Linked DNA regions of Homo sapiens: regions 1 and 3 are each linked to region 2. The links come from fine-mapping of genetic effects on gene expression. A gene starts in region 2. Each other region holds a variant in brackets. All regions are shown on one strand. Distances are between the middles of the regions.

Evidence for each region. PIP is the estimated chance that this variant, and not a neighbour inherited with it, causes the effect.
Region 1: its variant is fine-mapped to the expression of GRN in whole blood (INTERVAL, PIP 0.95).
Region 3: its variant is fine-mapped to the expression of GRN in whole blood (TOPMed, PIP above 0.99).

What each region holds. Positions count from the first base shown.
Region 1 is chr17:44,319,071-44,329,550 of GRCh38, reverse strand. It overlaps SLC25A39 (solute carrier family 25 member 39), which reads left to right and starts at 4,728. Exons shown (of 12, transcript NM_001143780.3): 1 at 4,728-4,840; 2 at 5,974-6,073; 3 at 6,208-6,267; 4 at 6,699-6,743; 5 at 6,999-7,132; 6 at 7,784-7,851; 7 at 7,993-8,117; 8 at 8,320-8,493; 9 at 8,820-8,929; 10 at 9,115-9,196; 11 at 9,275-9,355; 12 at 9,435-9,923. The coding sequence starts at 5,989. The coding sequence ends at 9,550. It overlaps LOC124904009 (a long non-coding RNA gene), which reads right to left and starts at 4,098. Exons shown (of 2, transcript XR_007065768.1): 1 at 3,930-4,098; 2 at 2,003-2,609. RefSeq lists enhancers at 2,856-2,955, 3,646-3,695, 2,954-3,805, 3,876-3,935, 3,986-4,065 and 1 more, a cis regulatory region at 2,304-2,981 and silencers at 4,516-4,945, 4,966-5,185. The variant A/G (reference allele first, on the strand shown) is at 4,800.
Region 2 is chr17:44,338,251-44,348,730 of GRCh38, reverse strand. GRN (granulin precursor) reads right to left here and starts at 3,429. Exons shown (of 13, transcript NM_002087.4): 1 at 3,397-3,429. RefSeq lists enhancers at 3,157-3,306, 4,458-5,383.
Region 3 is chr17:44,290,925-44,301,404 of GRCh38, reverse strand. RUNDC3A-AS1 (RUNDC3A antisense RNA 1) reads left to right here. Exons shown (of 4, transcript NR_110802.1): 4 at 1-1,831. It also overlaps the pseudogene RN7SL507P. Among named protein-coding and RNA genes, the nearest start is that of RUNDC3A-AS1, 12 kb to the left of the region's middle. The variant G/A (reference allele first, on the strand shown) is at 4,539.

The DNA of each region.
Region 1 (10,480 bases), 19 kb after region 2:
TAAAGATCAGACTACAGGCCGGGCGCGGTGGCTCACGCCTGTAATTCCAGCACTTTGGGAGGCCGAGGCAGGTGGATCATGAGGTCAGGAGATCGAGACCATCCTGGCTAACAAGGTGAAACCCCGTCTCTACTAAAAATACAAAAAATTAGCCGGGCGCGGTGGCGGGCGCCTGTAGTCCCAGCTACTCGGGAGGCTGAGGCAGGAGAATGGCGTGAACCCGGGAAGCGGAGCTTGCAGTGAGCCGAGATTGCGCCACTGCAGTCTGCAGTCCAGCCTGGGCGACAGAGCGAGACTCCGTCTCAAAAAAAAAAAAAAAAAAAAAAAAAAGATCAGACTACATTTGCTATGGGCCTGGGATTTGGACTTTTCCTCTGGGCAGTAGGGGGCCTCAGTGGTTCTGCAGCCCTGGGCCCTGCTTTGGGAGACTACTCTAGATGCAGACAGTGCTGGCCCTGGACTCAGAGGTGCTGGTGGGGTCCCATCCATGGGTGAAGCCCTTGAGTCCTCCATCAGCCCCAGAGATGTCTTCCTAGGCCCTGGGGGTTCAAGCTGGAGGGGACACTGCCCCTGTCCCAGGGCTTGCCTTGGACAAATTCAGCCTTGTAATAAACTGGCCCCTTGGGTATCAGGTGAGGACTGGTCCTTCAGTCTCCACAACCACCCCTGCAGCTGGTACTTTCTTCTCCCCTTTTACAGTTAAAAAGGGAGAGTTTCTGCTTTTCCATCTGTGCGAGGAAGCTGCAGATGGCCACATGGGGCCACATGTTGCCTCTGGAAGGACCACTGGGTGCATAACCAATGTAAACCTTGCCTGAGTCAGCCAGGCCAGTGGCCACCTCTGCAGCCTTCCAGGCTTGCTCCTCGAGGGTGGGCGTGTTGAGTCAGGGCTCCATAGCTTCTGGAGCATGTCAAAGCTCCTCCTCCACCCTGAACTGCCACGGTCATTCTTGGGAGAGACTTCACGAGGTCCCGAGGTGTCCCATCACCCATGGATAACCTCTCCAGCGGCCACTGCTTTGGTCACACCCATGAGGCCTCATGGTTCTCTAAGCTTCAAAGCATTTACATTCTGGAGAAGGTAAGGACTGTGATCCACGCGGCTCTGGGCCCCTGGCAGGTCTCACAGAACTGTTTATTGACTCTTCATGTAGCTTTCAGAGACATGATATTAAGAATCTGTACGTTAGGCAGAGCAGGTGATATCGTCCTTATTTTCAGATGAGGAAACAGGTGTATCCACAAATCTCTAAGGATCCTATTTAAGAGCATCACAAAAAGAAAACCAGAAATGGAGTGCAAGGCCCTCAATGTACTGTTGGGGAAACAGGCTCAGAGGTCCCCAGGTTTGATTCCTGGCTGTGCTACTTTGCACTGGTGACCTTCGTTCTGGGTATAAGAAGTTATTATTATCCATCACTGCATACTGGAGGCAGAGGTGGGGCCAGAATCTGGGGAACTTTCCATGCCACAGGTTCTAGAGAGCAATTAACAACAATACAGTAACAGCAATAGTAGTAGTTGTCATAGAATGCTTGCCACTTGCCAGGGTTCTAAGCACGTCACAGCCATTAATGCATTAAATCCTTACATAATCCCTAGAGGAAGGTGCGTTATCATCACCATCAGCCCATTTTGTAAATGGGGAAACTAAGGCTTAGAGGCCTTAAGACACTTGCTTGTAAGAGGCAGGTGAGATGGAAAGCCAGGTCAGGGTGCTGCTGGAACACAGCACCTGGGTTGAGAACTGGACAGGGTGGGAGCCCATCTGGCTCAGGCACGTTGGGGGGTCTAATGCTGACTCTTTCATTTGAGTGACCTTGGGGCGATTTGACCTTTGGGGCCCCCCTTTTCTCATCCATAAAACGGGAGAGTGTGTGCAGGGAAAGTCTGGGTTCTCCTCCACACGAGTAAAGTCACTACACACAAGAGCCCTCAGTTTCCTCCCCTGTTCCGTAAACCAAAACGTCTAAGTTGTAAAGAACCTTGGCGGAGAGTAGGCTTTCACCTTGACCGATAGTTTATTTATTTATTTATTTATTTATTATTTTTTGAGACAGAGTCTCCCTCTGTCATCCAGGTTGGAGTGCAGTGGTGTGATCTCGGCTCACTGCAGCCTCGACCTCGCGGGCTCAAGCGATTCTCTGGCCTCAGCCTCCCAAGTAGCTGAGACTACAGGTGCGCACCACCACCGCTGGCTAATTTTTGTATTTTTAGTAGAGACGGGGCTTCGTCATGTTGGTCAGGCTGGTCTCGAACTCCTGTCCTCAGGTGATCCGCCCACCTCGGCCTCCCAAACTGCTGGGATTACAGGCGTGAGCCCGACCTTGACTGATAGTTGATTAAATTATTTCGTGTCATTTCTGAACTCAGCTTGAGATGGGAAGGGAATGGAAAGGACGCCTTCTCTCGGGCCCTTTTGCCCAGCGCCCCTTTACAGGTCACAGATTGCACTCTCCCTGCTCCCAAGCTGGAGTTTCAGAGCTGTGGGGGAGCTCAAAGGCATTTTGTCAGGGAAAGCTGATAGTTGGCCCCTCGGAGTCCACGTGCTAACCCGGCAGGCGCCGGCTGACTGGGCTCCTCCAGCGCCGGACGCGACCAGTGGGGGCCTGAAGGGCGGGGAAGGCAGAGACGTCAAAGTCGAGGCCTACCCTTCTTAAAGGCGCAGGCTAGGAGTACCCATCTCCCCGCCCGCCCCCCCCCGCCTCCACCCGCCCGCCCGCCCCCCTCCGCCACCGCCCGCGCGTGCTGGTTTCTCTGTTAGGACAAATAAGCAAGATAGCACAGAAGTTCTAAACGCGAAGTGGGTGGTGGGGCCTGGGGTACGGGGCTGCCCCGGGAAATAAAGTGTCTCCCTGACAAGCGGGATCGGAGAGGGCAGCGCTGGACTTAAGCCTTCCTGTCTCCCGGGGAGGCAGTGTGGAGCCCTGGGAAAAGCACCCGGCCGGTTCGAATCTCCGGCTCTTCACGTCGAGCCTCAGTTTCACTTTCTGTAAAACGGGGTAATCTATTTCTTTTTCAGACGGAGTTTCGCTCTTGTTGCCCAGGCTGGAGTGCAATGGCGCAGTCTCGGCTCACCGCAACCTCCGCCTTCCGGGTTTAAGCGATTCTCCTGCCTCAGCCTCTCGAGTGGCTGGGATTACTGGCATGCGCCACCACGCCCGGCTAATTTTTTGTATTTTTAGTAGAGACGAGGTTTCACCATGTTGGTCAGGCTGCTCTCGAACTCCTGACCTCTGGTGATCCGCCCGCCTCGGCCTCCAAAAAGGCTGGGATTACAGGCGTAAGCCACTGCGCCCGGCCTTTTTTTTTGAGACGGAGTGTTACTCTGTTGCCCAGGCTGGAATGCAGTGGTGCGATCTCGGCTCACTGCAACCTCCGCCGGCCGGGTTCAAGCGATTCTCCTGCCTCAGCCTCCCGAGTAGCTGGGATTACAGGCGCCAGCCATCATGCCCGGCTACTTTTGTATTTTTAGTAGAGACGGGGTTTCACCATGTTGGCCAGGCTGGTCTCGAACTCCTGACTTCAAGTGATCCGCCCGCCTCGGCCTCCTAAAGTGCTGGATTACAGGCGTGAGCCACCGCGCCCGGCCTGTGGTAATCTATTTCAACAATAACCTACTGCAAAGAGTTTTGAGACTCAGAAGAAATCACGATACGAGAGCAACCAACACCAAAACGTCGATGCCCTCCCGCACTCAGTGCTCTTCCTCTCCGCGCAGAGTCATTCCGGGCCTTAGGCGAGGTTGTGATTTGCCCAAGGTCACGCGAAGGTGGGATCTGGCTCCCCATGGCTCTCCCGTCTCCCCCGGCTTGCTCACGTCCCAGCCCGCCCGGCCCGGGCTGCAGCTCAGCTAACCCAGTGGCGCACACCCGCGCGGGGCCCTGTGGTTTACAAAGCGTTTTGCAGTTGCAGGCCTGTCCTGTAACCTGAAAAATGGGGGCGATGCTAAGGCCGGCGAGAGAAGTCGCCGCGAAGTTTTCAAGTCTCGGCGGGTAGCCCGGCAAGTAACTTCGTCGTTATTGTGTGGTCTCCCGGCGATCTCGAAGAACTCATTCTCACTGCCGCCGCCACGCACCTGAGGACACCGAGGAAGAGGGCCAGTGCGTCACCCTCGCCGTCCAGAAGGCGCTGGGGTTTCCAGTGCCGCGCGCGGCCGGGGCGGGGCTGGTGAAAATGCGCTGTTAAGGCCGGCGCGGCGGCTCACGCCTGGAATCCCAGCACTTTCGAAGACCGAGGTGGGCGGATCGCTTGAGCCCAGGAGTTCCAGACTAGCCTGGGCAAAATAGGGAGACAAAAATAAAAGTAACAAACCAGCCGGGCGTGGCGGCGCGCGCCTGTGGTCCCAGCTACTCCGGAGGCTGAGGCAGGAGGATCGCTTGAACCCGGGAGGTCAAGGCTGCAGTGAGCCTAGATCGCGCCACTGCCCTCCAGCCTCGGCGACAGAGCGAGGCTGAAAAAGATGCTGTCTAAAAAAAGATGCTGGAAGTGCGTGCTGCTGCCACGTTAAGCGCGACGTGGAGACCGCGAAGTTGGCCGGCAGCTCTCAGCGCTGGACAGGCATGGAACTCGCCCGCGCGGCCCCGTCAAGGGGGCGGGACCGTCGCAGGTCCGGGCGGAGACGCGAGTGGGCGGAGCCGGGGACACTCCGGGCTTGCGGCTGGTCGGCCCGCGGCGGGCGGGGCCTCGTGGCGCGGTGTAGGGGCGGGGCCCCCTTGGCTGCTTTCGGCGTCGGCCTAGGTGCGCTGCGAGCGCGCGCGGACCGCGCACAGGCGGCGGAGCCGGTATGGGCCCGCCTG[A/G]CCCTGGGCGCCGCGCCGCACGAGCACCAGCCTAGAGCCAGGTAGGCGGCACTGGGCCGGGGCTGGGGGCGGAGACGGAAGCGGGGGTCTCCGGGCGGCCGTGCGAGCCAGGGCAGGTGCTGGGGCCGTCGAGCTGGCGTGGTCCCCCTCACCTGGCGGCTCTCCGCCGTTCGGGGCCGGGAGTGTCGCCGAGGGTCGGGGAGACGTCCTGGTCCTACGTTCCTACTTCCCGCTCTCCCGGCTGCGCCCCGGGCCTGCATTTTGGGGCGGGAACCCAGAGACTGCTCTTTCTCTCCGGGCCCCGGGTCTGGCCCGTCCGGCCGGGCGGGGAGGGCCGGGCATCCCAGCCCGCAGTCCTGAGGAGGCGACGGGCCCTTCTTGGTCACCGGATCTGTTTACACGTCACCCTCGATGCCCGGCCGTCCCTCCACGCCCAGTAACTTGGGCTCTCAGGTGCCTGCCCGGGGCCTTGGTGCTGGAGTGGGGGCTGTGGGGGCAGCACAGGTACTCTGATTTTGGGGCCACGAGGGCCAAATCCGCGCCTGCACGTAGGAGGTGCGCAGTGGACACGTGCGAGGTGGACGAGGGAAGGACCCTGGCTCCTACTGCATTCGAGCGATAGGTCTGGCACCCTAGCTTCCTTCGGAACCACTCCTGAGTGACCTTGGGCAGGCCACCTCGTCTCCCCGAGCCTTAGTTTTCCCCGGCGGAGGGGGGCGGACAGTCCCTGCTTTAGAGGTCATTGCCAGGGTTGTTGAGGCAACAGATGTTTCGAGGGCGGTGGATGAGGGTTGGGTTAAAGTCTCACAGTGGGCCGGGTGCGGTGGCTCACGCCTGTAATCCCAGTGCTTTGGGAGGCTGAGGCGGGCGGATCACGAGGTCAGGAGATCGAGATCATCTTGGCCAACATGGTGAAACCCTGTCTCTACTAAAAATGCAAAAATTAACTAGGCGTGGTGGTGCGCGCCTGTAGTCCCAGCTACTTGGGAGGCTGAAGCAAGAGAACCGCTTGAACGGGGGTGGATGTTGCAGTGAGCCAAGATGGTGCCACTGCACTCCAGCCTGGCAACAGTGCGCAGAGCGAGACGCCGTCTCAAAACAAAAGTCTCACAGTGGCCCAGCCTCCTTTCCTGCCATCCCTGGAGTTGTGGTCTGTTTGAGGTTTGGTTTTCAGGACTGAAGCTTCAAGATGGCTGACCAGGACCCTGCGGGCATCAGCCCCCTCCAGCAAATGGTGGCCTCAGGCACCGGGGCTGTGGTTACCTCTCTCTTCAGTAAGACCTAGGGGAGGTGGGGTGGGGGCGGGTGGGGATGGGGCAGACCGGAGATTGGAGGCTGTGTGGTCCTGGGGGAGGAGTCCTAGGGGTGGGGTCCTGAAAGGAGCCTTCAGACCCGCTTCCTCCCCCAGTGACACCCCTGGACGTGGTGAAGGTTCGCCTGCAGTCTCAGCGGCCCTCCATGGCCAGCGGTGAGTACCTGACCTGGAACTAGTGAGGGGTGGTGCCTGGGCAAAAGAAAGATCTCCCAGAGGCTGGCCGTGGTTTCTCATACCTGTAATCCCAGCGCTTTGGGAGGCTGAGGTGGGTGGATCACCTGAGATCAGGAGTTCAAGGCCAGCCTGGCCAACGTGGTGAAACTCTCTCACTACTAAAACTACAAAAATTAGCCGGGCTTGGTGGCATGCGCCTGTAGTCCCAGCTACCTGGGAGGCTGAGGCAGGAGAATCGCTTGAACCGGGAAGGTGGAGGTTGCAGTGAGCTGAGATTGTGCCACTATGCTCCAGGGTGGGCGACAGAGCAAGACTCCATCTCAAAAAATAAAATAAAAAGATCTCCCAGAGATGGGGTCCCTAGGGCGGGTGGGGGCTCTCCTGACTTGAGGGGCTGCCTTGTATTTTAGAGCTGATGCCTTCCTCCAGACTGTGGAGCCTCTCCTATACCAAATGTGAGTGCCCCAAGCCACAGGGAGCATGGGAGGGTGCAAGGGGGAGACAGTCCTTGTCCCTGTCCCCAGGGCACCAGTGGGCTCCACAGCCATGGACTAGCATATACTCCCAGGTCCTGCCAGCCAGTCCTGTGACCTGCACCAGAACATCCACACAGGGACCTGGCCTTTACTGGCCTTCCAGGGATAGGGGCCCACTGCCTCCCTGCAAGGTTCTAGGATCCTGTCATTATAATGCCCCCTGCCTTTCCCCAGTGCCCTCCTCTCTCCAATCCACAGGGAAGTGCCTCCTGTATTGCAATGGTGTCCTGGAGCCTCTGTACCTGTGCCCAAATGGTGCCCGCTGTGCCACCTGGTTTCAAGACCCTACCCGCTTCACTGGCACCATGGTGAGGAGCAGCTGGGTCCGTAGGGATTCGTCGGTGTCCGTGAGGAGTTCGGTCTGGCTGGGCAGCAGACCCAGGAGTAAAGGGATTGGGCAAGGCACGCAGAGGTAGCCGGTTCCGTCAGGAAGTGCTTCCGGAGAAGGCAGTACCTCCATGGGGTGTTTGTTTTCTTTTAGACAGAGTCTCGCTCTGTCACCCAGGCTGGAGTGCGGTGGTGTGATCTCAGCTCACTGCAACCTCTGTCTCCTGGGTTCAAGTGGTTCTCCTGTCTCAGCCTCCGAAGTAGCTGGGATTACAAGCGTGCACCACCACCTGCCGCTAATTTTTGTATTTTTAGTAGAGACAGGGTTTTGCCGTGTTGGCCAGGCTGGTCTCGAACTCCTGCCTCAAGTGATTTATCCGCCTTGGCCTCCCAAAGTGCTGGCTGGGATTACATATGTGAGCCACCGTGCCTGGCCTCCATAAGGTTTTTGAAGGGTGACCAGGTGTCCGCCTGGACCCAGCTGCTGGGGTACTGCATGTGTAGAGGCAGGGAGGCCTGAGGGCTGTGGGCAGAGGCTGAGGGCGTCAGGCAAAGGCCTAGCCTGGGCCAGCCCCATCACAGACATCACTTGTGTCCCTCCTCTTCCCCTGGGCTGGTGCCTGCTTGGCCAGGATGCCTTCGTGAAGATCGTGAGGCACGAGGGCACCAGGACCCTCTGGAGCGGCCTCCCCGCCACCCTGTGAGTAGCCGGGTCCTGCACCACTCTCCTCTGGTACTTCCTGACCCTTTGCTCCCTGTTGAATGGCTAGGTGGGGCAGGTGATGCTTTAAAAGTTTGGGTCCTTTTGGGAGTCCCAGCTAACCTCTCTCTGTATCCCCAGGGTGATGACTGTGCCAGCTACCGCCATCTACTTCACTGCCTATGACCAACTGAAGGCCTTCCTGTGTGGTCGAGCCCTGACCTCTGACCTCTACGCACCCATGGTGGCTGGCGCGCTGGCCCGCCGTGAGCATAGTCTTGGGCCTTTGACCTCCCTCTGTCCCCACCTCGGCCCAAACCCAGTCAGTCCCAGCTCCCAGCCCCAACCTCTGCCAGCCTAGGGATAGGGGGGTGTTCTAGGTCCCCAGACCTGGGACAGCAGGTAGGTGATGCCATGTAAGACCTGTGATCTCACTTCTCCCCATTGTCACCCCCAATCCCCACACAGTGGGCACCGTGACTGTGATCAGCCCCCTGGAGCTTATGCGGACAAAGCTGCAGGCTCAGCATGTGTCGTACCGGGAGCTGGGTGCCTGTGTTCGAACTGCAGTGGCTCAGGGTGGCTGGCGCTCACTGTGGCTGGGCTGGGGCCCCACTGCCCTTCGAGATGTGCCCTTCTCAGGTAGGCACCCAAGCTGCAGGGGGTGGGTGAGGGAACCCTGGGGTGATGCACAAAGGGTCTACAGCCAAGTCCCAGCTTTGTGACTAGTGACCATGAAGTTACTTAGCTTTTCTGAGCCATGGGTTTCTCATCTGTGAAGTGGGCCTAGCAGGTAGAGTATTTGCCCAGGCGGTCAGGAGATTAATTCCTACAGAGTGCCTGCTTCTGAGCCTGCATGTAGCAGACAAGACTCACAGCTGGGAGGGAGTGGTGGCAGTGAAAGGTGGACGGTCTGGGGCCACTTCCTTGCCCTTCCCGTCTCTAATCAGTGCATCCCCCACCCCAAGCCCTGTACTGGTTCAACTATGAGCTGGTGAAGAGCTGGCTCAATGGGTTCAGGCCGAAGGACCAGACTTCTGTGGGCATGAGCTTTGTGGCTGGTGGCATCTCAGGGACGGTGAGTGGACTGGGCTGGAGGTGAGGCCAGCGGAGGTCTCCCTGCGGGGGGCCTGAGGATTTTTGGAGATGCCCAGAAGCAGACCCCATGAGGCCTTTGTCCCTCCCAGCCGCAAGAGCCATCTGGGAGGTAGGGGTGGGGGTCCAGGAAGTGGAGCTGAGCCCTCTCCCCGCCCACCCCACCAGGTGGCTGCAGTGCTGACTCTACCCTTTGACGTGGTAAAGACCCAACGCCAGGTCGCTCTGGGAGCGATGGAGGCTGTGAGAGGTGAGGGCCCAGATTGCCGTGGCAGGGGACAGGTGGGGTCCTGAATGGGGTCTCACTGAGCCGGCCTCGCGTTTGCAGTGAACCCCCTGCATGTGGACTCCACCTGGCTGCTGCTGCGGAGGATCCGGGCCGAGTCGGGCACCAAGGGACTCTTTGCAGGTCAGTGTGTGGGTGTCGGGGGTGGGGGCATGGCGGACCTGCGACCTGACCCCTGACACGGGCCTCCTTTCCACTGCAGGCTTCCTTCCTCGGATCATCAAGGCTGCCCCCTCCTGTGCCATCATGATCAGCACCTATGAGTTCGGCAAAAGCTTCTTCCAGAGGCTGAACCAGGACCGGCTTCTGGGCGGCTGAAAGGGGCAAGGAGGCAAGGACCCCGTCTCTCCCACGGATGGGGAGAGGGCAGGAGGAGACCCAGCCAAGTGCCTTTTCCTCAGCACTGAGGGAGGGGGCTTGTTTCCCTTCCCTCCCGGCGACAAGCTCCAGGGCAGGGCTGTCCCTCTGGGCGGCCCAGCACTTCCTCAGACACAACTTCTTCCTGCTGCTCCAGTCGTGGGGATCATCACTTACCCACCCCCCAAGTTCAAGACCAAATCTTCCAGCTGCCCCCTTCGTGTTTCCCTGTGTTTGCTGTAGCTGGGCATGTCTCCAGGAACCAAGAAGCCCTCAGCCTGGTGTAGTCTCCCTGACCCTTGTTAATTCCTTAAGTCTAAAGATGATGAACTTCTGCCTGGTGCCTGTCCCTCTGGGGCCTGGGGTGGCTGGGAGGGAGGCTTGGGAGGGACCCTGGTGCTGGTTTGGCTGCCCAGAGTGGCACCTATGAAGAGGACCTCTCCAGTTTGGCGAGAGTCGGGGTGAGGACCTAGAGTGTAAGGGACCACAAGTAGACATTCTGGTGGTGAGGTCCCTTTGGGGACCTCCCCCCCATGTTAGGGTTAGAATTGGGGGTGGTAGGGGCTGGGCACGGTGGCTCACGCCTGTAATCCCAGCACTTTGGGAGGCCGAGGCAGGTGGATCACAAGGGCAGGAGATTGAGACCATCCTAGCCAACACGGTGAAACCTCGTCTCTACTAAGAATACAAAAATTAGCTGGGCATGCTGGTGGGCGCCTGTAGTCCCAGCTACTCGGGAGGCTGAGGCAGGAGAATCCCTTGAACCTGGGAAGCGGAGTTTGCAGTGAGCTGAAATAGTGCCACTGCCCTCCAGCCTGGCAACAGAGCGAGGCTCCATCTCAAAAAAAAAGAATGGGGGATGGTAACACCTCTCCTTAAGGGCACACTTAA
Region 2 (10,480 bases):
CCCAGGAAAAGCCAGGGTTCCCCTCCAGATGCCTCCTTGCCTGACACTATGTTCATACCTGCACCCCGCTAAGGCCTTGCGGGAAGCGGCCACATGATGACATGGGAAACCACAGGGGTGAGAAAGTTGTGAAAAAGGAAATATGGTGGCCAGTGGAGTCTGGGCTGCCTTCCCCAGAGGTCACCATCTGCCCATGAATGTCCCCTCCTCACCCAGAGAAAAGGACACAGAAGCTGGGTCAGCCCTTGAGACACCTGTGTTCTGAGGGTCCCCCACACCACCAGGGCCCTCTGAGATTCCTCAAGCATGCTAAACCCTGCCCTTGCCTCTCCATCTATTCTGGAAGTGAAACTCAGCCACATGTGGAGAGAGACCACGTGTGCCCACTGGGCTGCCCATCTGAGTCACCAGGAGGAACTGAGCCTTGAGTCTCTGTGGAGAGCAGCCTCTCACTTCCTAAACAACTCTTCTCCCAGGCTCAGCTAGCCCAGCTAGTTCAGTGGGGTGGCCAGAGAGGTAACTCATAATGAAGAAGCAAAAACAGTAATGTCTGTTGAGCCTCTTGGGAGCCAGTTACAAGACTCTCCATTATTTTATATATATTTCTTTGCAACAACCATCCAAAGTAGTAATTAATACCTTTACTTTTATTTTATTTTTAGAGATGAGGTATTGCCATGTTGCCCAGGCTGGACTCAGACTCCTGGGATCAAGCAATCCTCCAACCTTGGCCTCCTACTAAGTAGCTGGGACTGTGGGAGCGTGCCACCACGTCTGCTCACCCCCTTTTTTTTTTTTTTTTTGAGACAGTCTTGCTCTGTTGCCCATGCTCGAGTTCAGTGGCACGATCTCAGCTCACTGCAACCTCTGCCTCCCAAGTTCAAGCAAGTAGCTGGGACTACAGGCGCTCGCCACCACGCCTGGCTAATTTTTGTATTTTTAGCAGAGAGGGGGTTTCACCATATTGGTCAGGCTGGTCTTGAACTCCTGACCTCAGCTGATCCACCCACCTCAGCCTCCCTAAGTGCTGGGATTACAGGCTTGAACCACCACACCCAGCCACACCTTTATTTTAAAGGAGGAAACTGAAGCTTAGAGATGTTAAGTACAGTCAGCCCTCCATATCCAACCAGGGATCAAAATATATTGGGCGCGGTGGCTAACGCCTGTAATCCCAGCACTTTGGGAGGCCCAGGTGGGCGGATCCCAAGGTCAGGAGTTCAAGACCAGCCTGACCAACGTGGTAAAACCCCATCTCTATTAAAAATACAAAAATTAGCCATGCGTGGTAGCGCACACCTGCAATCCCAGCTACTCAAGAGGCTGAGGCAGGAGAATCGCTTGAGCCCAGGAGGTGGAGGTTGCAGTGAGCAGAGATCACGCCAACATACTCCAGCCTGGGTGACAGAGTGAGACTGAGATTCTGTCTCAAAAAACAAAACAAAAAAACCCCTGAAAATGTTACATCGTTGCTGAGTTATACAATGTAGTTAGGCTTACGATGGGTGCATCTATACTGAACATCTACAGATAGTTCTTTCTTATTATTCCCTAAACAATTCAGGATCACAACTATTTACATGGCATTTCTTTTTCTTTTTCTCTTTTTTTTTTGAGATGGAGTCCTGCTCTGTCACCCAGGCTGTAGTACAGTGGCGCGATCTCAGCTTACTGCGAACTCCGCCTCCCAGGTTCAAGCAATTCTCCTGCCTCAGCCTCCCAAGTAGGTGGGATTATAGGTGTGCGCTACCACACCTGGCTAATTTTTGTATTTTTAGTAGAGATGGGGGTTTCACCATGTTGGTCAGGCTGGTCTCAAACTCCAGACCTCAGGTGATCCACCTGCCACGGCCTCCCAAAGTGGTGGGATTACAGGCATGAGCCACCACGCCCAGCCGACATGTCATTTCCATTGTATTAGGTATAAGTAATCTAGAAATGATTTAAAGTATGTATAGGTTATATGCAAATATTACACCATTTTATCTCAGGGGCTTGAGCACCCACAGATTTTGGGGTCCTGGAACCAGTTCCGTGAAGATACCAAGGGACACCTATAACACGTCACACATCAGGTCATGGTGACGTCAGGCTTTGATGGCCCCAGAGCGTATTGGACCTGGGTTCATATCACTAGTGGCACGATGGGCAGTGCCTGGGAATGGTGCAACAGGTACAACAGAAACAGGGTACAGGGACTGCCTGAAAATCGCACTTGGGTCCTAATCCTAGAATTGCCAACTGTGAGGGCCTGAGAAGTTGCTCTCTGTCTGTGCCTCAGTTACCCCACGAGTCTAGGTGTGGATACCACTGCGGGGGGAGGGGCAGGAAATCTCACCCACCCAGTCACTCACATCCTCTCTGCTCCACCTGGCTTTCCTCAAGTGCCCCTCCCCTAACTCAGCATCCCCAAGAGGCCACCTCCTGGACAGATAAGGATGAAGTTCACTGGTCCTGGACAGTGGACCCTCTCCTCAGCCCCACAGCTCCCAGGCAAAGCACCTGCAGCTGGCACCGCCTGCTTCCTGGGTGTTCTCAGCAGGCTGTCCGCTGCCATGGCTTGCTGGGAAGGGGAGTCTGTCTGCACAGGAGTGTTCGGCTCCCTGGTGAATTACCTGTGCATGTGGCCCCTCCTGTTTACCCTAAATTGAGGGAGTATAGTGTATGCTTCTACTGAATACAAGCACTCGCATACAGAAACAGGGATGAGGAGGCGAGTCGCAGTCTCTCATGCCACCCTACACCGCCAAAACAGCCAGAGGGGACAGCAGCCTCTTCAAGACCCTAGCTCCGTTATCTTCCACTAGGTGGCACCCCCCAACTCCGAGTGCCAAGGGGAGAGGAAATTCCCAAAAGGGGAGCCAACCTAGCTGCAAATGAGCAGGAAAAAGTGGCTGGGAGAGGCGGAAGCTAGCTCGTCCCACCCGCAACAAGAGGAAGTAAGGAGGAGCCAGACCAGGTTCAGTCACCACTCCCAAGTCCCTACTACCTTCGAGAAGCCAAGGTCTCAGGTCTCGTTCCCAGGCCCTCGGAGCTCCCAGCCCAGGGTCGCGCGCCCCTCCGGCTCCAGGCCGCCGCGGGAACCACCCACCACCACCAGGAGAGGGGAAGAAGCCAGCACCTACCGACAGGGGTGGAGCTGGGTCAAGAATGGTGTGGTCCCTGCTTTGGGGGAATGCTGGGGAGGTAGAAAGCCCCTTCTAACGGGGCGTCACTGCAATTACTGCTTCCTCTTTCCCATAAAACTCCCCCTAGTGTATCAGAACCCCCAAGGAGTTTCAGTAAGCGGTTCTTCTGTTGTCTCCGGCTGAGACTCCAGGGGAACCTCAAGCTCACATGGCCCTGGCGGGCCCCTGGGCAGGAGCAGGCGAGAGGTCTGCGCGGCCGCTCTCCTACCTGCGTCCGACTCCGCGGTCCTTGGGCAGCAGCAACCGGGTAGCGCTCAGACTACAGACCCCAGCGCGATGACCCGCCTACCTCAGTTTCCATTGGCCAGGGATCAGGGCTACCCGCTCCCATTGGCTACTTATCAATATAGAGGTGGGGCCAGCCTGGAATGCTGTGTTTCTTTTCTACTCAAATCACTCTCCTCCCTGCTTCCTCTCGCCCCACACCCCATTTCTAGGGATCATGTGATTGGAGAATCATGTGACGTCGGGACAGCCTCAGCAGGGCAGCTGGTGCTCGTCGCCTTCCTTAACCCATCCTGCAGGCGCCTGGGGGAGTTTGCTAGAGATGATAGCGCGTGTCTGGGGCATTGACAGTGCGAGGGAGTGTTATGAATTGGGAATATTTGTGCTCGCCTTTCTATCCTTTTGTTTGTTTGTTCTGAGACGGAGTCTCACTCTGTCGCCAGGCTGGAGTGCAGTGGCACGATCTCGGCTCACTGCAACCTCTGCCTCCCGGGTTCAAGCGATTCTCCTGCCTCAGCCTCCCGAGTAGCTGGGACTACAGGCGCGCACCACCACGCCCAGCTAATTTTTGTATTTTTAGTAGAGACGGGGTTTCACCATGTTGGCCAGGATGGTCTCGATTTCTTGACCTCGTGATCCGCCCACCTCGGCCTCCCAAAGTGCTAAGATTACAGGCATGAGCCACCGCGCCCGGACTTGTGTGTTTGTTTTAGAGACAGGGTCTCGCTCAGTCGCCCAAGCTGATCATAGCTCACTGCGGCCTGCAACTCCTGCTCCCAAAGCGATTCTCCTACCGCAGCCCCCCAAGGCGCTGGGATTACAAATGTGAGCTACTGAGCTGGCTCGCTCCTATCCTATCCTGCCCTGTCTTGTCCTGTCCTGTCCTGCCCTATTCTGCCCTATTCTCCAAACTCGGTTGACATGCTAGGCAGGCCCCAGAGTGAGTTGAAGGATGGTTTCCAGGACAAAGATAAACAGCCCCAAAGCCCTTTCCTCAAGGTGCTCAGCAGGACAGGGAGCAGGGATTGGTGGGAGACAGTCTCAGGCTGAATCTAATTTAAGATACAAGGTTGTGCGCCAGTTGCCAGGTGTAGGGAGAGGAAGTAGATTGTCTCCAGGTGGGGAAGAAGAGATTTCATTCCACCTTAGGAGCATCTCCTTGAGCTGAGTCTGGGAAGATTTTAACTGGCAGGTGGAGGAGGAGGTGTTGGGAAGAGCCCTGGGAAACCAGATGGGAAGGGCAGGCTTGGCAGGGATTGAATGCCATGTTCAATGCCAGTGGGCTTCAGGAGCTGCTGGGTGCCTGGCACGGGCTGGGCTGTGGTGGGGGCTGTCGAAAGAGAAGTGGCTTCCTAGTCTCCAGATCGGCCCTGCCTTCGAGGAATTGATATGGGAGGGTGAGGAGAGAAAATGTACCACAGAACAGATTAGCCAGTGACAAGAGTCAGCCTGCTTGGTGCCAAAGGGCCTGGGCCAGGCAGAGATGGATGATGGGAGATGGGCCAGGAGAGAGGAGAGGCCCAGGGAAAGCCTGATACTGGGCCGTGGAGGAACGGCAGTGTCTGCACAGGGGATGGAGACTGCTGCAGCCTGAGCAAGGAACTGGAGCTGAGGATGAGGCAGGGGCAGGGGGATGGCTAACCAAGCTCGAGGCAGCAGAAGTCGGAGGAGGGAAAGGGTGCCAACCGAGCTGTGGAGTCGTGTGGCAGGGGTTCTAAGCCTGGAGCTAGAGCAGACCCAGACAGCGGATAAGACACCTGGCCTGCTGAGGACCTAGTACTAGTCTGTGCCCTGGTGACACATTTGTGCTTATTTTCCTTCCTGTGTATCTTGAGACTAGGGAGTATAGTTTATGCTTCTATTGAAACACACACACACATGAAACTTTCATGAAATGTTAGGTGAATCGATCAATAACCTACTAATTACAACCACCCAGAACCAGAAAAAAATACAGGTAGAAGAAAAAAAACCTAAACAGACTGAAACAAATATCACAAAGTCTAATCGTCAAAGCCGTGATTCTTGAGCAGCGGCAATTTTGCCGGCCAGGGACATTTAGGAGTGTCTGGAGACAATCTGGGTTGTCACAACTCAGGGTGGAGGGACACTGGCATCTGGTAGGTAAGGGCCAGCAATCCCACTAAACATCACACGACACACAGAACAATCCCCCACAACAAAGAAGTATCCTGCCCAAAAGGTCAATAGTGCTGAGACTCAACAACCTACTTCACAAATGTTTCTCTCTCTCTCTCTCGCTCTTTTTTTTTTTTTTTTTAACATCAGAAGGGTAAGGTGCCACGATAACGAGGTCTGTAATTCCCTACTCAGGAGGCCGAGGCAGGAGAATCGCTTGAACCCGGGATGCAGAGGTTGCAGTAAACCGAGATCGTGCCACTGCATTCCAGCCTGGACAACAGAGCGAGACTCCATCCACCCCCGCCAACACAAAAAAATTAAAGTGTACAACTCAATGGTTTTTAGTGTCTTAAGAGAGTTATGCAGCATCATTACAATCAGTTTAAGACCATTTTTATCACCACAGAAGGCAGCCTTATGTCCTTTAGCAGTCACCCTCCCTAACCCTAGGCAACCACTGATCTACTTTCTACCTCTATAGATTTGGATATTCCATATAAATGAAATTTTATAATATGTGATCTGCAACTGGCTTCTTTCACTTAGCATAATGTTTTCAAAGCTTATCACATAGCAGGTATCAGTATCTCATTTCTTTTTTGTTTGTTTCTTTTCATTTGTTTGAGACAGAGTCTCACTCCAACACTCAAGCTGGAGTGCAGTGGCACGATCTTGGCTCACTGCAACCTCTGCCTCCTGGGTTCAAGCAATTCTCCTGTCTCAGCCTCCCGGATAGCTGGGATTACAAGCATGTGCCATGATGCCCAGCTAATTTTTGTATTTTAGTAGAGACAGGGTTCCGCCATGTTGACCAGGCTGGTCTCGAACTCCTGACCTCAAGTGATCCACCCACCTCAATCTCCCAGACTGCTGGGATTACAGGCGTGAGCCACCACGCGTGGCCCATTTTTGTTTGTTTCTTTGTTTTTGAGACAGAGCCTTCCTCTGCCGCCCAAGCTGGATTACAGTGGTGCCACCTTGTACTGCAGCCTCAGACCCTCCCACCTCAGCCTCCTGAGTAGCTGGGAATACAGACACATGCCACCACTCCCAGCTATATTTTGTATTTTTTTGTCTTAATATGTTGCCTAGTCTGGTCTCAAGCTCCTGGCCTCAAGTGATCCTGCTGCCTCAGCCTCCCAAAATGCTGAGATTACAGATTACAGGCTTGAGCCACTGTGCCTATCTTCATCATCCCCCCAGCATTTTTTTTTTTTTTTTTGAGACAGGGTATTGCTCTGTTACCCAGGTTGGAGTGCAGTGGTGTCATCTCTGCTCACTGCAACCTCTGCCTCCTGGGCTCAAGTAATCCTCCCACCTCCGCCTCCCAAGTAGCTGGGACTACAGGTGCTTATCACCATGTCCAGCTAATTTTTGTGTGGTTTTTGTAGAGACAGGGTCTTGCCATGTTGGTCAGCTAGTCTCAAACTCCTGAACTCCAGGGATCCTCCCACTTCAGCCTCCCAAAGGGCTGGGATTACAGGAGTGAGCCACCACGCCCGGCCCATACAAGTTTTTGTGTGGACATGTTTTCATTTCTCTTGGGTATATACCTAGGAGTAGAATTAGTGGATTACATAATAATTCTGTTTAGCCTTTTGTGTAACTACCAGCCTGTTTTCCAAAGCAGCTGCACTATTTTACATTCCCACCAGCGATGTATGAGGGTTTCAATTTCTCTTTAGCCTCATCCATGGTTAACTTCTGTTATCATCTGTCTTTCTTATCATAACCATCCTAAGCCTTTAGTGTGAGCTGGTGGGCTGGCGACCCAGGAGAGCTGATGGTTAAGTCTGAGGGTAGCCTGCAGGAGAATTCCCTCTAGTTCGGCGAGGCCCGTCTTTCTGTTTTATTCAGGTCCATCCACATTATGGAGTATCGCGGGATCTGGCCAGCAGCCCACAAGGCAATGGGGCTCTCTCTTTGTCCCCAGGTGGATCGGCAGGTCGGGAAATAATAGACACACACAAGATAGTGAAAGCTGGGTCCAAGGGGGTCACCGCCTTCTGGTCCTGCGATGCTGCCAATGCACTGGATATACCAGCATTTATTATTAAGTTTAGTGAGGGCGAGGGTAGGTTAGTGAGGGATTTAGGGTCGTTTGATTATGAGGTGAGATGGTCACATGGGGATGAAGTAATTCTTTAACATAACATCTGTATGCAGAAGTACAGTATACAGAGATAAGAATTTACAATATAGTGTGTGCATCAGTAATTTCTAACAGAGCCTTAAAACAGAAACACAGTCTTTCCATAACCTATGATTAGCAAGATATTAATCAGCAGTAAGAGTTGCAGCAAAAGCTGGTTACAAACAATCCATAGAAACAGGACGTGAAGCTAGATAACCAGTTAGACCAGAAATTATCAGAAGGGAGTATGCCTTAACCTTAAAGAGGCCTAGAAGAGCCATGGCAAGATGAGGGCATTTATAGCCCTATCTTATCCATATGAACAGGTGCCGCTCATGCGTCCATTTATAGGCCCTCCACAAGGGTCACATTCCATTCCCAGGGCTATGAACATCTGCTTTTCTGGGATAGGAATATTGGTGATGTGAAACCTCCCTGACTGCACGTCTGTTCATAGGCTCTCTTCAGGGGGAAGCACATCACGAGCTGTTGGCTTATACTGGCAGTCCAACCTGGCATTGTCTTTACACAATCCTGCATGCAATTTCGTATTTACAATAATCAGGAGCATTTCATCTTTTATTCCGTAGCAATAGTTTCAGGGGGTCTCCCTACAATGGAGAGCAATTTGCTTTAACCAAAGTTCACTGATTTAAATGTTAATCTAATCCAGGAGCACCATCCAAGTAGATACATTGTTCTACCATCACAGTATTATTTGCTGATTGTTTTTGCAGTATTTTCTTTCTTGTTGAACTGTAGGAGCTGTTTATATATTCTGGGTATTTTGTATGTTTCAGATGCTTCCTCCCAATCTGTCATTTGTCTTTTGTGTTGTTGTTATGTCATCTGAAATATATTGGTCAATCTTTTCCTTTGTGGCTTCTGCTTTTTTTTTTTTTTTATTTTCCTTCGCTTAAGAAGTTACAGGGGCCGGGCGTGGTGGCTCACGCCTGTAATCCCAGCACTTTGGGAGGCTGAGGCGGGTGGATCACAAGGTCAGGAAATGGAGACCATCCTGGCTAACACGGTGAAACTCCATCTCTACTAAAAATCCAAAAAATTAGCCAGGCGTGGTGGTAGGCGCCTGTAGTCCCAGCTACTCGGGAGGCTGAGGCAGGAGAATGGCGTGAACCAGGGAGGCGGAGCTTGCAGTGAGCCGAGATGGCACCACTGCACTCCAGCCTGGGCGACAGAGCAAGACTCTGTCTCAAAAATTAAAAAAAAAAAAAAAAGTTACAGGGGGCCAGGCCTATTGGCCTGTAATCCAGCACTTTGGGAGGCAGAGGTGGGTAGATCACTCAAGGTTAGGAGTTCAAGACCAGCCTGGCCAGCATGGTGAAACCCTGTCTCTACTAAAAATACAAAAATTAGCTGGGCATGGTGGCACATGCCTGTAATCCCAGCTACTCAGGAGGCTGAGGGAGGAGAATCACTTGAACCTGGGAGGCGGAGACTGCAGTGAGCCAAGATGGCACCACTGCACTTGAGCCAGGGCAAGTGAGACTTTGTCTAAAAAAAAAAAAAAAACAACAAGTTACATACCAGCAGGCAGGCACAGTGGGTCACGCCTGTAATCCCAGCACTTTAGGAGGCCAAGGCCAAGGTGAAAGGATCACTTGAGCCTAGGAGTTTGAGACCAGCCTGGGCAACATATGGAGACCCCATCACTAAAAAAAAAAAAAAATTAAAAAAAAATTAAAAAATTTTCAGGCTGCCAGGAATGGTGGCTCACGCCTATAATCCCAGCACTTTGGGAGGCTGAGGTGGGTGGATCACCTGAGGTTAGGAGTTCAAAACCAGACTGGCCAACATGGTGAAACCCCATCTCTACTAAAAATACAAAAATTAGCCAGGGGTGGTGGTGCACATCTGTAATCCCAGCTACTTGGGAGGCTGAGGCACGAGAATTGCTTGAACCTGGGAGGCAGAGGTTGCAGTGAGCCAAGATTGCGCCACTGCACTCCAGCCTGGGAGACAGAGTGAGACTCTCAAAAATAAAAATAAAAATAAATCTGGCAACCCTAAAAGCTGAGGCTCAAGTGAGGGCACAGAAACAGCCACCTCCCCACCCCCACCTCTTTTTCCCCTTGCTGCTTGAGTCACCTCCGTGTGAGCGATTGTTGACCCAGTTCCAGGCGCCTGCCCTCATCATCAGGCACCTGACTAGTGTGCCTGCTGGGCCCCGCCTGGGCTGTCTGCCCCAAGAGGCCCCAAGGAAGTGTGAGGGATAGGCTAAGCCATACCCTGAAGCCCTAGCCTGTCACAGGAGACCACCCCACTGTATGAGCCCAGAGACAGTCACTCGGTCACCTGTCCTTTCTGGGCTTTGAAAGGGTGTGAGAGGGGAGAGGGATGGGGACCAGGGAGCCAGGCTGGGAGCAGGGACTTGGTAAGAGGATTCTTGGAGAGATCTTGGGATGGGAGCTTTAAGCTATTGCAGAAAGCTAGCCCGGAAGGGAGATTAGTGCTCAGTGCTTTCACAGATTACAGGAGAGGAAACTGAGGCTCAGGGAGGCTCAGGCTGAGGCCTCTTGACTGGAGGGCTTATAAGCTATAAAGTGCCCACACCAGGGTTCTGGGTCCAGGCAGGGCTGGCTTCATAGCCATGTGACGAGGGCCCTGTGCTCAGAAGCAGCCTGTGCTTTGTTTAAAGCTCTACAGGCCGGGTGCAGTGGCTCACGCCTGTAATCCCAGGACTTTGGGAGGCCAAAGCAGGATGACCACTTGAGCCCGGGAGCTCAAGGCTGCAGTGATATGTGATTGCAACAATGCACCCCAGCCTGGGCAA
Region 3 (10,480 bases), 47 kb after region 2:
ATCCTCATAAAAAATAAGAGAAAAGAAGGAGAGGAAAGTTAACCAATATTTAAAGAGTGTATATAACAAAACAAGCAAGAGAAAACATGCCCATGGCTTCTACAATCCTTGCTTCTATATCTGGTCAGAAGCTGATATTATAACTTTCCTCTTCCATTACCCTTGAAGGGTTCAAGGGATTCTCGTGCCTCAGCCTCCAGAGTAGCTGGGAATACGGGTGCCCACCAACCACCACACCTGGCTAATTTTTGTATTTTTTTTAGTAGAGACAGGGTTTCACCATTTTGGCCAGACTGGTCTCGAACTCCTGACCTCAAGTGATCCCCACCCACCTTGCCTCCCAAAGTGCTGGGATTACAGGCGTGAGCCACCGTGCCTGGCCCCAAATCTGTATTCTTTATTTTTATTATTGTTATTATTATTATTGTTGTTTTTTTTTTTGAGACGGAGTCTCGCTCTGTCACCCAGGCTGGAGTGCAGTGGCGCGATCTCAGCTCAATGCAACCTCCGTCTCCCGGGTTCAAGCAATTCTCCTGCCTCAGCCTCCTGAGTAGCTGGATTTACAGGCGCCCACGACCATGCCCGGCTAATTTTTGTATTTTTAGTAGAGAGAAGGTTGCACCATATTGGCCAGGCTGGTCTCTTGGCCAGGCTGGTCTCAAACCCCTGACCTGGTGATCCGCCCATCTTGGCCTCCCAAAATGCTGGGATTACAGGCATGAGCCACCACGCCCGGCCCCCAAACCTTTATTCTTAAAATAAAGGTTTCAAGAATAAACCTTTATTCTTGAAATTAGCATTCTACAAATTGGAATCCTCAGAACTGTATTGCTCTTTTTTTTTTAACTTTTACTATTGGACACGGAAATAGGACATGGCACACCAGGGAGTCCCCTGGGTTCCAGACATAGTCCTCCCTGCCTTTCTTTTGGAGTTAGAACCCAGCTTACCCTTGGCATTTGGGATCAGTCATCCCAGAAGGTAACCCCTTTTTTGCCCTGAGCTCAGGTGAGAGCCTTATCTTCCAGGTAGTGGAACCATTGCAGTATCTCCTCGTGAAAGGATTCCTCCCTTAGTGTGGCAGATGCTGGCAGTGCCCTCCCATGTTCCTGAAGCTCTTGGGTTCACTGGATGAACTTCCAGCTGCCAGAACCTGCAGCTCTTTATCTAAGGACTCTCTCTGGCCACTGGAGCCTGCTGAGCAGGCTGAAAGTTCTGGGGAATTATACTCCCAGCCACAGCAACCTTCAGCCAATCACCGATGGGGATCGGTGCGTAAATAGCCAGCTTCCTCATCCCTCAGGTCCTGCAGCAAACATTATGACTGGCTCCCTGAGTTCCTTCTTAGGATTAAGCTCTGGTTGTCCACGTGTTTTGTTTGTTTGTTTGTTTGTTTTGTTGTTGTTGTTTTGTTTGTTTTTGAGACAGAGTCTCACTCTTGTTGCCCAGGCTGGAGTGCAATGGTGCAATCTTGGCTCACTGCAACCTCCGCCTCCTGGGTTCAAGCAATTCCCCTGCCTCAGCCTCCCAAGTAGCTGGGATTATAGCCATGTGCCACCACGCTCGGCTAATTTTGTATTTTTAGTAGAAACGGGGTTTCTCTATGTCGGTTAGGCTGGTCTCGAACTCCCGACCTCAGGTGATCCACCTGCCTTGGCCTCCCAAAGTGCTGGGATTACAGGTGTGAGCCACCGCACCCGGCCGGTTGTCCATGTTTTTAACTTGCTTGATAACACACCCTTTATGAGCCTCCTTTCTTTCCAATGTCAGTCTCCCACTGGCTTGCTTGGTATTCCTAGCATCGCTTTTCAAATAAACACTTGTGTTTCTCAAATAAATACTTTCCTTTGAATCCTTGACTCAGGTTCTACTTCTGGAGGGAACCCAAACCAACACATTTGATATCCAAAGTTGTCCTAGGAAGTAGACCCCCAGGATAAGATTCTGGTTTTGGATCACTCATCATCCAGATGGCCCAAAGATTCCATTGCTGAGGTAAGTGGGGTACTAATACCCACTGGAGAACTGGACTGATCGTCAGACTGTCACCCTGGTGAAATGGGATGCAGACAGGGATGCACTGCCTATGCAATAGCTCTAGTATTTGAGGTGTAAGAGGAAAATGGTAATTATAAGGACTGTGGAGACTGGGCTCAGTGGTTCATGCCTGTAATCCCAGCAGTTTGGGAGGCCAAGGCGGGTGAATGACTTGAGGTCAGGAGTTCGTGACCAGCCTGGCCAACATGGCAAACCCTGTCTCTACTAAAAATACAAAAATTAGCTGGGTGTGGTGGCAGGCACCTGTAATCTCAGCTACTAGGGAAGCTGAGGCACGAGAATCACTTGAAGCCACAAGGCAGAGGCTGCAGTGAGCTGAGATTGCGCCACTGCACTCCTGCCTGGATGACAGAGTCTCACTCTGTCATCAAAAAAAAAAAAAAAAGGAGTTGTTTGGTTGCTGTTAATGCCATCAAAGGGTTAAAAGAATAAAAGACAGACTCACATCAGCCAGCTATCAATTTATGATATAGTTAAAAGCTAGAAGAAGCCGGGCTCACACCTGTAATCCCAGCACTTTGGGAGGATCACTTGAGCCCAGGAGTTCGAGACAAGCCCCAGCAACATAGGAATACCCTGTCTCTACAAAAAATAAATTATCTGGGTATGGTGGTGAGCACCTGTGTTCCCAGCTATTCAGAAGGCTGAGGTGGGAGGATCACTTGAGCCCAGGAGGTTGAGGCTGCAGTGAGCCATGATTGTGCCATTGCATTCCAGCCTGGGCGACAGAGCAAGACCCTATCTTAAAACAAAACAAAAACCAGAAGACCTCTATGGCAGCATGTAAGGAAACCCTCACCTCCTGTGCAGGGCAGACTGTGATGAAAATCAGTCCTATAATCTGATTGCAAGAGTAGCAGGGTTTTATATTTAAAGCCCCAGCAGGTCAGGGCCCTGGGAGGGAAGGAGTGGGATCCTGAGGCCTGGTATGGGAACATCTGTTCTAAAACCCCCTTATTATGCTGAGTTATTTGGGCTGGCAGAATTGGCCTCTCCCCCTGGGTGGAAGAGAGCAGCCTCCCCTTGCCTAGATAACATGCAGATTCCTCACCTGAGGCAGACGCCTCACAAGATGATACTTGCCCTCTTCAAAGCCTGATGTTGACTCCCCTCCATGACTCTAGACCAATAACAATGGTCAAGTCTCATCAGGGACCAAGTGGGGAAGCACTGTCCCATCTATGGAAAGAAAAGGATGATTCACCAAAAGACCTGCAGGAGCTGGTGAACATTTACCAGAAGAATTTGGCAGAACATGTTTGGGAACATATCTTGAGGGTGTTAGACTGGGGTCAGGGGGTGGAATATAAGGCTGAGTAAGGCCGGGTCGGGTGGCTCATTCCTGTAATCCCAGCACTTTGGGAGACTGAGGCGGGAGGATCACCTGAGGTCAGGAATTCGAGAACAGCATGGCCAACATGGTGAAACCCCATCTCTACTAAAAATACAAAAAAATTAGCTGGGCCTGGTGGCGTGTGCCTGTACTCCCAGCTACTCAGGAGGCTGAGGCACAAAAGTCCCTTGAACCCGGGCAGTGGAGGTTGGCAGTGAGTCTAGATCGCACCACTGCACTCCAGCCTGGGTAACAGAGTAAGACTCCGTCTCAGAAAAAAAAAAAAAATGCTGAATAAGGGTACGTTTATTGATATGGAATGCCCTACCTGGTAAGGATTTAACATTTTATTTTATTTTATTTATTATTTATTTATTTATTTATTTATTTATTTATTTATTATTTATTTTGAGATGAGTCTTGCTCTGTAACCCAGGCTGGAGTGCAATGGTGCGATCTAGGCTCACTGCAACCTCCGCCTCCTGAGTTCAAGCAATTCTCCTGCCTCAGCCTCCCGAGTAGCTGGGATTACAGGTGCACACCACCATACCGGGCTAATTTTTGTATTTTTAGTAGAGACGGGTTTTCACCATGTTGACCAGTCTGGTCTCAAACTCATGACCTCAAGTGATCCATCTGCCTTGGCCTCCCAAAGTGCTGAGATTACAGGAGTGAGCCATCACGCCTGGCCTGGGATTTAACATTTTAAAGCTTGGCAAGGACACCAGAAGCCTGTTGCAATATGCCCCCGGGATAGATCTTCAAAGTGTGGAAAAACTATGAGTTCCAGCAAATGAGGTAGAGATGTTGGAACTTCCTTGACAGAATACTTGGAAGAATAAAGGCTCAGAAAAGTGGGCATGCCAGAATAAAATGACTATTATATAAGACTATAGAACCCTCCAGCCTACTGTGTTCTTCATGAGGGCCCAGAAATACTCAATAAATAAAGTGATACAAAAGGTGCTAGTTGGAACAGGGCCACTGGCATTTGCAGGTCAGTGGTAGCTGTCCTCAGCAGGCCAGAGCAATGGTAGCGGGAGCTGCTATGGGACTAGCCTTTCTAGAGTCAGTGGGTATAACAGGAGTCCAGAACGAGGTCAGGCGACAGCACGTGGTCATGAGAGGCTAAGTGGACATAATTACC[G/A]TAATAGGCAGAAAGACCAGAAATGTAAGCAGGGATCTATTGTGATGACCAAGAGACCATGGTGTTCCCAGATAGGAGGATGGTGAAGGAGGGTATCTCTTGCTTATAAAAACAAGCAAGAATGAGACAGCAGAAGGCTGAAGTTAGCCACTGCAAAGGAAAATCCCCATCCCATACCCAGTTTCCAGGCCCAAACCAGTTTTCAGATATAGAGCCCTTTGTCTTTTTTTTTTTTTTTTTTTTTTTTGAGATGGAGTCTTGCTCTGTCACCCAGGCTGGAGTGCAGTGGTGCAATCTTGGCTCACTGTAACCTCCACCTCCCAGGTTCAAGCGGTTCTCCTGCCTCAGCCTCCCAAGTAGCTGGGATTACAGGTGCTCGCCACCACACCTAGCTAATTTTTTGTATTTTTAGTAGAGACGGGGTTTCACCATGTTGGCCAGGCTGGTCTCGAACTCCTCACCTCAAGTGATGTGCCACCTCGGCCTCCCAAAGTGCTGGGATTACACATGTGAGCCACCAAACGTGGCCAAATATAGAGCCCTTTCATTGAAGTGGGGGCCAGTTCCCTTCAGGAAGAATCCTACAATGCCATGGCAAGTTTATATCATGGTAATTATCCTATTCTTCCCCCAAAGGTACTTACAGCTGCTTATCAGAGCAACTGCATCCTGGGGAAAGGGAAATACTCAGATCTTTCAAGGCTTTTGGATACAGAGTTGGAACTGACACTAATATTAAGGAACCAAAATGCCATCATGGGCATGTATTAGTGTGGGGCATATGGAGGCCAGGTGATGAAAGGAGATCTGGCCCATCAGTCTGCTTGATGGTTATTTCCCTGGCCCCTGAATACATAGTGGAATAGAGGTACTTAGTAGATAGCAGATCTCTCGCGTTGGTTTCCTGAAATAAGAGCCATTACCACACCTGTAATCCCAAGTGTGGAGGCCAAGGTGGGAGGATCACTTGAGCCCAGGAGTTTGAGAGCAGCCTGGGCAAAATAGTGAAACCTCATCTCTACAAAAAAATTTTTTTAAATTAGCTGGGTATCGTGGCACACTCCTGTAGTCCCAGCTACTCAGGACACTGAGGTGGGAGGATTGGTTAAGCCAGGGAGGTCAAGATTGCAGTGAGCTGAGATTGTACCACTGCACTCCACCCTGTGTGACATAATGAAACCATCTCCAAAAAAAAAAAGAATGAAATAAGAGTCATTAGGGTAGGAAAGGCCAATTAGAAATTGCTTCCTCATCTCCCTCCCAAGAGAGTTAATCAGAAGCAATGCCCCAGCCCAGGTGGAATGGCAGTGGTTGGAGTCACTCACAAAGGATATAAAAGTGGTGGTTCCCAGGATATCCCCATTTAATTCATCAATCTGGCTCTTGCAAAAACCAGATGGATCATTGTAGATGAGGGTGCACATAACCAAGTGGCGCCCTGATTGAGTGCTGTGCCAGATGTGTTAGCTTTCTTAGAACAGATCAACAGAGTCCCTGCCATTTAGTCCATGACTGTTAATTTGTTGAAGGAAGTAAGATTAGAAGCAGATTCCTGCCAGGCTCGGTGGCTCACGCCTGTAATACCAGCACTTTGGGAGGCCAAGGCAGGCAGATCACTTGAAGTCAGGAGTTTGAGACCAGCCTGACCAAGATGGTGAAACCCTGTCTCTACTAAAAATACAGGAATTAGCCAGACGTGGTGGTGGGTACCTGTAATCCCAGCTACTCAGGAGACTGAGGCACGAGAATCACTTGAACCCGGGAGAGGGAGGTTGCAGTGAGCCGAGATCGAGCCACTGTACTCTAGCGGGGGCAACATAGCGAGACTCAGTCTCAAAAAAAAAAGCCGATTCCTTTCCCTGAGGACAGACAAAAGTCCACATCCACAGTCTTACCCCAGGGCTATGTTAACTGTCCTGCTTTCTGTCATAATAGAGCAGAAACCTTGATCATCTTGGCATTCCACACAACATCACACAATCCATTGTACCGACGACATTGAGCTAATGGAACCTGGTGAACAGAAAGTGGCAAGGCACGTGCTTGCCAGAGGTTGGAGGATAAATCCTACAAAGACTCAAGGATCTTTGCAAAATTTGTCAGAGTCCAGTGAACTGGCACCACCATGTGTCTCCTATCCCTAGGAAAGATGCACAAAGCCTGGCAAGCCCCTTCAGATATGGGAGATGGCACATGCCACACTTGGAAATACTGCTCCAACTAATTTTCAGGGAACTCCGAAGGCTGCTGGTTTTGAGTGGGGCCCACAACAAGAGAGGTTTTTTTCAGTCCAGGCCAAAATGCAAAGTTCCCTGCCACTTGGGCTCATATAGCCTAGCAGATGCCATCTATCTATGATTCATAGGATGCTTTGGGGAGTCTCTGGCAAGCCCAGAAGGTTCTGGAGCAAGGCCATGCCATCTACAGCAGAGGACTGTTCCGGTTTTAAAAAATAATCTTCTGGCCGGGTGCATCGGCTCACACCTGTAATGCCAGCACTTTGGGAGGTCAAGGGATCACCTGAGGTCAGGAGTTCGAGACCAGCCTGGCCAACATGGTGAAACCCTGTCTACTAAAAATACAAAAATTAGTCAGGTGTGGTGGTGCACGCTTGTAGTCCCAGCTACTCGGGAGGCTGAGGCACGAGAATGGCGTGAACCCAGGAAGTGGAGGTTGCAGTGAGCCGAGATTGTGCCACTGCACTCCAGCCTGGGTAAGAGAACAAGTCTCTGTCTCAAAAAAAGAAGTCTTCGGTTGTGCTGCAGAGACCTGACCATTGGACAGGTATGGTGATGTGATCAGAGCTGCCCATTGCGAAGCGGGAACTGTCAGATACACCAAGTGACACAGTTGAGCAGGTGCAGCAATAATCCATCCTACCATGGAAATGGTGCATTCCAGATGAGGACTACTCAGCCTAAAGCGCACAAGTAAGTTACATGAACAGGCAGCCAGACCCCCAGGGCACGTATCCCTGTTGCAGCTATGTCTCTCCCTCAACTCACACCTTTGGCCTCATGGGGAGTTCTTTATCACCAGTTGACAGAGGAGGAAAAAAAGCCCCAGATCTAATTTACAGATAAAATGGCTTCCTAGGTTGGTGTGGACTGAAAATGAACTTCAGCCACATCACAGCCACAGTCAAGGGTGGCCCTGAAAGGCAGTGGTGAGGGGAAACCCCCTTGATGACAGAGCTGCTGACATTAGCACCTGGTCAGCAACATAAGGTGGAAGGAAAAGGGCTTTGAGCTAAGGATATACACAGATTACTAGGTAGAGGCCAGAGTCTTGTCTGATAGGTCAGAGACCTAGAAGGAGCAAGGCTGGAAGATCTGAGACGGGTTTTTGTGAGGGGAGGACAAATGGATGGATTTGCTGGAGTGAGCACAAAGTTTGCACTATGTCTCTATTGGTACCCCACGGTGAGCATCCTTTGCAGAAGGGGTACTAAGCAACCGGGCGGACAAGATAGCCTGGTCAGTAGATGTCCTTCAGCTTCTTTTTATTTTTATTTATTTATTTATTTTTGAGACAGGACCTCGCTCTGTTGCCCAGGAGTGCAATGGAGTGATCATGGTTCACTGCAGCCTTGACCTCCCTGGGCTCAGATGATCCTCCCACCTCAGCCTCCCAACTAGCTGGGACAACAGGCACACACCACCGTGTCTGGCTAATTGTGTGTGTGTGTGTGTGTGTGTGTGTGTGTGTGTGTGTGTGCAGAGACAGGGTTTTGCTATGTTGCCCAGGCTGGTCTCGAACTCCTGGGCTCAAGCGAGCTTCCTGCCTTGGCCTCCCAAAGTGCTGGGATTATAGGTATGAGCCACCGCACCCGGGAGACAGAGCTTGCAGTGACCTGAGATTGCGCCATTGCACTCCAGCCTGGGTGGCAGAGCAAGATTCTGTCTCAAAAAAAAAAAGCTACAGTATCTACTTGGAACTAATGGTCATTATATGGTGCTGTGTCTGCTATAGCTAGAATACATGGTTCCAGGAACCTAGGAATAGAAGTTGGAGTGATCCCCCTCACCATCCTTCCCAGGAACCCACTGGGAAATATATGTTTCTCACCCACACTACTTTTTTTTTTTTTTTTTAATTTTGTAGAGACAAGGTCTCACTATGGTGCACAGGCTGGTTTTAAACTCCTGGTATCAAACAATCCTCCTCCCTTGGCCTCCCAAAGTGCTGGGATCATAGGCATGAGCCACTGAGCCCTGCCTTTTAAAAAAAAAAAAATAGAGAGGGACAGCTGCTTGCTGTGTTGCCCAGGCTGAACTGCAGTGGCTATTTACCAGCAGGATTATCACACAAAACAGTCTTGAACTCCTGGGCTCAAGTGATCCTCCTGTCTCAGCCTCCGGAGTAGCTGGGACTACAGGTGTGCACCACGGTGTCCAGCTTTACCTCCTGCCACTTTATACTTTGGTAGACTAGTGATCATGATTGGTGATCCTGATTCCCAAGGGTAGGTGAAGGGAATGCTTCTACCAGGCCACTCAGTAAGGATTCCACTAAAACTGAAGCTATGGCTGCCTTATGATCGTTTTGAGCTCCTCGGGCCAGTAGATCAGCAGACAAAATAAAAAGAAGCTACTCTCCTGGCAGGGTAATCAACCCTGATTATCATGAGGAGACAGGGTTGCTGCTATATAATGGGTGCAGAAAGAATAAATCTAGACCTCAGGGGATTGACTGGTCACCTCGTGTTGACTCCATGAGTGATGATAACTGAATGGGCAACTGCAGCAAAACCATGATCTGAATGGATATGGAAACCAGGGGCTCAGACCCATCAGGAATACCCCCTGAAGCAGCATCATTCACCATAGCCAAAAAGTGGAGACAACCCAAAAGTCCATCAGCTGATGAATGGACCAACAAAATGTATTATATGCATACAATGGAATATTATTCAGCAATAAAAAGGAATGAAATACTGATACATGCTACAACATGGATGACCTTGAAAATATCATGGTTAGTGAAAGAAGCCAGCCACCAAAAAACCTATATTGTATGATTTTTTTTTTTTTTTTTGAGATGGAGTTTTGTTCTTGTTGCCCAGGCTGGAGTGCAGTGGCACAGTCTCTGCTCACTGTAATGTCCGCCTCCCAGGTTCAAGCGATTCTCCTGCCTCAGCCTCCCAAGTAGCTGGAAGTACAGGCTCCTATCACTATGCCCAGCTAATTTTTGTATTTTTAGTAGAGACGGGTTTCACCATGTTGGCCAGCCTGGTCTCGAACTCCTGACCGCAGGTGATCTGCTCACCTCAGCCTCCCAAAGTGCTGGGATTACAGGCATGACCCACAGCGCCCAGCCTATATTGTATGATTTTATTTACATGAAATGTCTAGAATAGGCAAATCTATAGAGACAGAAACAATATTAATGGTTGCCTAGGGCTGGAGGGAGGAATGAGGAGTGATGGCTGATGGGCATGGAATTTCTTTTTGGAGTGATGGAAATACTCTAAACTTAGAATGTAGTGGTTGTAGAACTCGGGGAGTAATAAAAGCCACTGAATTGTGCACTTTAAATGGGTGAATTTTATGGCATGTGAATTATACTTCAATAAAGATGTTACAAAGGAAACTTATAACAGTATACTTCCATTTCTTCTGTCCCTGACTTTGAATATTGTTGTTAGACATTTTACTGTAGTTGGTATATTCATGCATATTAATGAGATTGGCTATTTTTTCAGATGCTTATTGAGCCAGGTGAGGTGATGTGAGCCTATAGTCCCAGCTACTTGGGAGGCTGAAGCAGGAGGATTGCTTGAGGCCCGTCCTGGACTGTAGTGCGCTATGCAGATCGGGTGTCCACACTAAGTTCAGCATCGATATAGTGACCTCCCAGGAGTGGGGGACCAACAGGTTGCCTAAGGTGGAGTGAACCAGCCCAGGGTGGAAAGGGAGGAGGTCAAACCTCCCATGCTGATC